Linked DNA regions of Homo sapiens: region 1 is linked to region 2. The links come from fine-mapping of genetic effects on gene expression. Tissue or cell type: monocytes after Pam3CSK4. Region 2 holds a variant in brackets; the other region holds the start of a gene. All regions are shown on one strand. Distances are from middle to middle.

The links. PIP is the estimated chance that this variant, and not a neighbour inherited with it, causes the effect.
Region 1: it holds the start of CCDC157, and the variant in region 2 is fine-mapped to the expression of CCDC157 in monocytes after Pam3CSK4 (Quach 2016, PIP 0.95).

The regions. Positions count from the first base shown.
Region 1 is chr22:30,355,458-30,357,957 of GRCh38, reverse strand. It overlaps CCDC157 (coiled-coil domain containing 157), which reads right to left and starts at 951. Exons shown (of 12, transcript NM_001017437.5): 1 at 826-951. SF3A1 (splicing factor 3a subunit 1) reads left to right here and starts at 1,064. Exons shown (of 16, transcript NM_005877.6): 1 at 1,064-1,228. The coding sequence starts at 1,166. RefSeq lists an enhancer at 1-182 and a silencer at 1,118-1,367.
Region 2 is chr22:30,381,716-30,384,470 of GRCh38, reverse strand. RNF215 (ring finger protein 215) reads left to right here. Exons shown (of 9, transcript NM_001017981.2): 5 at 1-132. Among named protein-coding and RNA genes, the nearest start is that of RNF215, 4.3 kb to the left of the region's middle. The variant C/T (reference allele first, on the strand shown) is at 1,138.

The DNA.
Region 1 (2,500 bases), 26 kb after region 2:
GCGTGATGGCTCATGCGTGTAATCCCAGCACTTTGGGAGGCCAAGGCGGGAGGATCGCTTGACCCCAGGAGTTTGAGACCAGCCTGGGCAACATAGGGAGACGTCCTCCCATGTCCCTACAAAAAAAAAAATTTAAAAACTGGCCGGGCGCGGTGGCTCACGCCTGTAACCCTAACACTTTGGGAAGCCGAGGCGGGCGGATCATTTGAGGTCAGGAGTTCCAGACCAGCCTGGCCAGCATGGTGAAACCCCGTCTCTACTAAAAATGCCAAAAAAAAAAAAAAAAAAATTAGCCGGGTGTGGTGGGCGCCTGTAGTCCCAGCCACTCGGGAGGCTGAGGCAGGAGAATCGCTTGAACTCGGGAGGCGGAGGTTGCAGAGAGTCAAGATCGCGCCACTGCACTCCAGCCTGGGTGACAGAGCAAGACCTTGTCTCAGAAAAAAAGAAAAAAGAAAGACAAAGAAAGCAGCAGCCTTGATTTGAGAGGGAGGCCCCCAGTGGGGCTTGAGGGCGGGACTACGGAAGGCAGGGGATGGAAGCAAGAAAAGGCAGGTTCCGTGGGAAAAGCGAATTAAGGGCGTAGGATTTGGAAGCGGGGCTTGGAGGATGTGGGTCTGAAATGAAAGGGGGGACTAAGGGAGTAGGGAAGTGGGGCTCTTAGGCGGTGAGCCTGAGGGGACAGGGGCTCTCCTAAATGAGAGACCAATGGGAGGGAGCTGGGCTCTTGGAAGGCGGGGTCGAAGGGAGCGAGGTACTGGCCTGTGGAGTAAAGGAGCCGCGAGGTGAGTGCGGCGGGGGTCCGGCGGGTGACGTACAACATCTCACCTGTCTTCGGCGTCGCGGCTTCAGCCTTCGTGTCTGGTCGGCTCCCGGAACTGCCCCCGGTGCGCCTGCGGCCACCGGGATCCCCGAAAAGCCCTAGCCGGGCGCTCAGGCCGCTGCCTTGGCAACGGCGTCGGACGCCGCGGTGCCCGCGGGGAGGGGCGGGAAGCGCGTCACGGCGAGGGGACGGTCCCGGAAGTGCGCCAGTCGTACCTTCGCGGCCGCAACTCGCTCGGCCGCCGCCATCTTGCGAGCTCGTCGTACTGACCGAGCGGGGAGGCTGTCTTGAGGCGGCACCGCTCACCGACACCGAGGCGGACTGGCAGCCCTGAGCGTCGCAGTCATGCCGGCCGGACCCGTGCAGGCGGTGCCCCCGCCGCCGCCCGTGCCCACGGAGCCCAAACAGGTACCTCTCCCCCGCCCCTCAGCCTGCAGCCGGAGGGTTGGCCTGGGCGCTCCTTACTCGCACAGGAATAAGCGGCCGGCCGCTATGAAGGGCTTGGAGGGACTGCAAGTCCCAAGAGGCTGCGCGCTTCCCGCGCTATGGTGGTGTTCTGGTAGCGAAATGAGCCACCCTGAACGGGATTCTCTAAGTGGTCCGCGGAGCAGCCCCGTCGGCACGAGCCGGGAGCTTCTTAGAAATGTGGAGTCTCCGCCGTAGATCTTTTAAATAGGAATCTACATTTGAACAAAATCCTAAGGTGATTGATTTATAAGTGCGAGAGGCGCTGATCCAGCCCATCCTCTGATCTTATGTAGCAGTTGGGGCCGCCGGCCACAGCCTTTCCCCAGTAATGGCTAATTTCCCAGCCTGCACGGTACATCTTTGGATGTTAATTCTCAGCATCTATTTCGGTGTCTGCCCCAAGCCAGACACCGTGCCAGGCTCCCACATTACCGGAATGAATGGGGCATGGTCCCTGCCTAGGGAGCTCACAGGCTAACGAGAAGACAGACATATGAGAATGCTCACCAAATGTTTGTTGTCCCAATGGCCATCGATGATACAGTGCCAGCCCGCCCTTAATAAAGCTCTCCAATCTCGAATGTGCACAAACCATTGTAGTATGGTGTGATATGCCCTGTGATAGAAGTTTCAGGTACAAATCTAATGAACATTGTTTGCTGGGCTAGAAGGGATATTAAGGTAGGGAAGCCCACAAGAGTGAGAGGTAAATTTCTTTTAGAAGAAGGAATAGGAGTTTGCCAGGTAGGTGACTAGGGAAGGGAAATAGCATCCTTTATTCATCCAGCAAATATTTATTGAACACATACGCTGATCATTGCTTTGGGTTCAGAATAAGGGGGGCGGGGGGGGGGAACATGACTGAAGAAGCCATGCCTTTTCCACAAATATTTAAGTGCCCGTGTGTCCCTGGCATTTTCCCAGGCATTGGGGGAAAATAAGGTAATAGCCAGATAATATGCGCAAAGACACCGAGGTGAATCAAACGGTGTCTCTGATCAAGAGTAAATGAACAAGTGTTGAAGCATAGACTTAGGAGCGTAGTGGCAGGAGATGCGATTCTTACTTAGGATTTGAACTTTTCCTTGTAGACAGTGGGAAGAAAAGGGAGTGTTTTAAGCCAAATAGTGACATTTGTGTTTCAGAAATTCAGGTAGGCAGACGTGTGGAGAATCACTATGAGGGGAGGCCAGTCACGCTATTCCAAAGAGG
Region 2 (2,755 bases):
ACCAGCGGAGAGTCCCTGTCTGCCAATATCGAGTGGAAGTTGACCTTGTGGACCACCTGTGGCCTCTCCAAGGATGGCTATGGAGGATGGCAGGACTTGGTCTGCCTTGGAGGCAGTCGTGCCCAGGAGCAGGTGGGTGCTAGCAGATTACATGGGGCCTAGGGAAAGGAGGCTCGTGGGGCCATATACATGGCTTTGTATTGAAAATCCTGTGGCTTCTCCCCACCTTAGTGACAAGGACGGCCTTTCCCACCCCACAGGAGTGCTGTGAGTGTTCAGAGACATGGTGTAGGTGGGCGCTCAGTTGGGGCGCCTGGGCCAGGTCACATGTAGTCAGTGTTAGCTGCCGTCCTCATGTTCTGCAGGCATTGGGAAGCCTTATTCCACTGCCTGTAAAATTCAGACCCCTCTGCGTGGCTTTCCCAGCTCTCTGCATCACTCACTCACTCTATTTTTCTAGTCCTTTTTCCTATGCTCTGGCCACCCTGTACCAATGACTGCATATGCCCAGGCCTTCTGCCACTGGGCCTTGTCTACACCTGGCTGTAGACGTGGACACCTTTTCTGTGTCCACACGTCCTAGTCTAGCTAGAACCTTCACAACTCATCCTGCCACGTTTCTTTGGAAAGCCTCCCTCCCACCCCAGCTTGAAGTCCCCTCCCTCTCTCTCTCTTTTGTATCACAACAAGGCGTGGTCAGGCCGTCCATGGGCTTCTTGGGACAGCCCATCCTGCATGTGATGAGGCGCGTCACTTTGTCTCCTGACAGCCAGGACTGTGTTTTATCGTCTCTGGATTTCCAGCGCTTGGCATCAGGGCATTCAAGGGTATTCTGTCCACAAGCATTTCTTGAGTCCCTACTCTGCTGGGCAGTCACGTCCCGGTCTCCTGGTGTACAGCCTCCAGCAGGTGTTGGCCACCGTGGGCTGTGCAGGGCAGCTTCAAGTGGGGCAATCTTGGGATCAAATCCTGGCTTGGAAACCTTAGCTGGCTGGTCTCAGCTGGGAGTTTCACCTCTCTGGCCTCATGTTCCTCATTTGCAAACAGGGACGGTACTCTGTGTATCCCTGTCATGGGTGGCCCACACAGGCCTCTGGACAGGGCAGGCATTGGTGAGAGGCTTGGGGTGGGGCTGAG[C/T]GCAGTCTGCAGGTGGGTCTGGCTGCTCAAGAGGGCAGACCTGAGCAGCCTTGGCCAGGCTGCAGGCTGGGGTCAAGGTGGTCCCAACCCAAGTATTGGGTGGCCATGGCCACTAAAGTGTCTGAAGGGTGGCTGGAGGAGGCATCTCAGTGGCTGGCCTGATGGGCATCGGGCTCTCAGTCCTGACCCCAGGGCCCAGTCACTGTGCCTCCAGCCTCTGGGAGTCCAGAGCAGCAACACTCATGTATCAGGAAGGTCTGATGAACAGCAGTGGCACGATCTTGGCTCACTGCAGCCTCGACCTCCTGGGCTCAAGTGACCCTGCCACCTCAGTCCCCCAAGTAGCTGGGACTACAGGCACGTGCCACCATGTCTAGCTAATTTTTGTATTTTTTGTAGAGATGGGGTTTCACTATGTTGCCCAGGCTGGTCTCGAACTCCTGAGCTTAGGCATTCGGCCCACCTCGGCCTCCCAAAGTGCTGGGATTACAGGCGTGATGAACCACCATGCCCAGCTAATGAACAGTCCTTACTGCTCTGATGGCAAGCTCCCATCCTGCCCTCCATCCTCACCTGGGGCTCTGCAAGGTGTGTTCCCCAAGATGCACTGAACCTGGGGCACATAGGGCTCCCCAGGATGCAGTGAGCCTGGGGAGGCTGGGTCTTTGGCCTGCAGCGGAGCTTCAGGCCGGCCACACTTTCAGCCCACCCAGCTGGCTGCTCTGAGGCATGGAGCTCTACAGCAGGCTCTGCCCTGGAGAGCTTATGCCATAATGGCCACTTAGTCCTGGCATGGGGCTCAGGGGAGTGTCACTTTGTCTCCTGACAGCCAGGGCTGTGTTTTATCATCTCTGGATTTCCAATACCCAACACTTGGCATCAAGGGCATTCAAGGGTATTCTGTCCACAAGCTTTTTTTTTTTTTTTTTGAGACAGAGTTTCGCTCTTGTTGCCCAGGCTGGAGTGCAATGGCGCAATCTCGGCTCACCACAGCCTCCGCCTCCCAGGTTCAAGCGATTCTCCTACCTCAGCCTCCCTAGTAAGCGGGACTACAGGCATGCACCACCACACACAGGCTAATTTTTTGTATTTTTAGTTGAGACGGGGTTTCTCCATGTTGGTCAGGCTAGTCTCGAACTCCCAACCTCAGGTGATCCGCCCACCTCGGCCTCCCAAAGTGCTGGGATTATAGGCATGAACCACCGCGGCTGGCCCCCAAGCATTTCTTGAGTTACTTCTCTGCCAGGCAGTGATGCCCCGGTCTCCTGGTGTACAGCCCCCAGCACGTGTTGGCCAACGTGGGCTGCTCCAGCCCTGGGCTCATGGGGGCCCAGTCTGGAGAGCAGATAGGCCAGAGACATGCTGTCACTCTGCTGGGGTAAGCACAGAGCTGGTGGTGGCCCCGGCACCCTCTAGGGCATGATAAAGGCACTCAGCCTGGAGCTTGGGGACAGCTTCCTAGAACAGGTGGCACTGCCCAGCTGCAGCTGGAGGAGAGAAGAGAGCAGGATGGAGAGGGGAGCTGGGGCTCACAGACACTTCCCAGTGAGGGCCCCCAGAGCACCTCCACTGTGAGCAGAGCAATGGCTTGTGGCACTAGCAGCACCAGGCTTGTCTA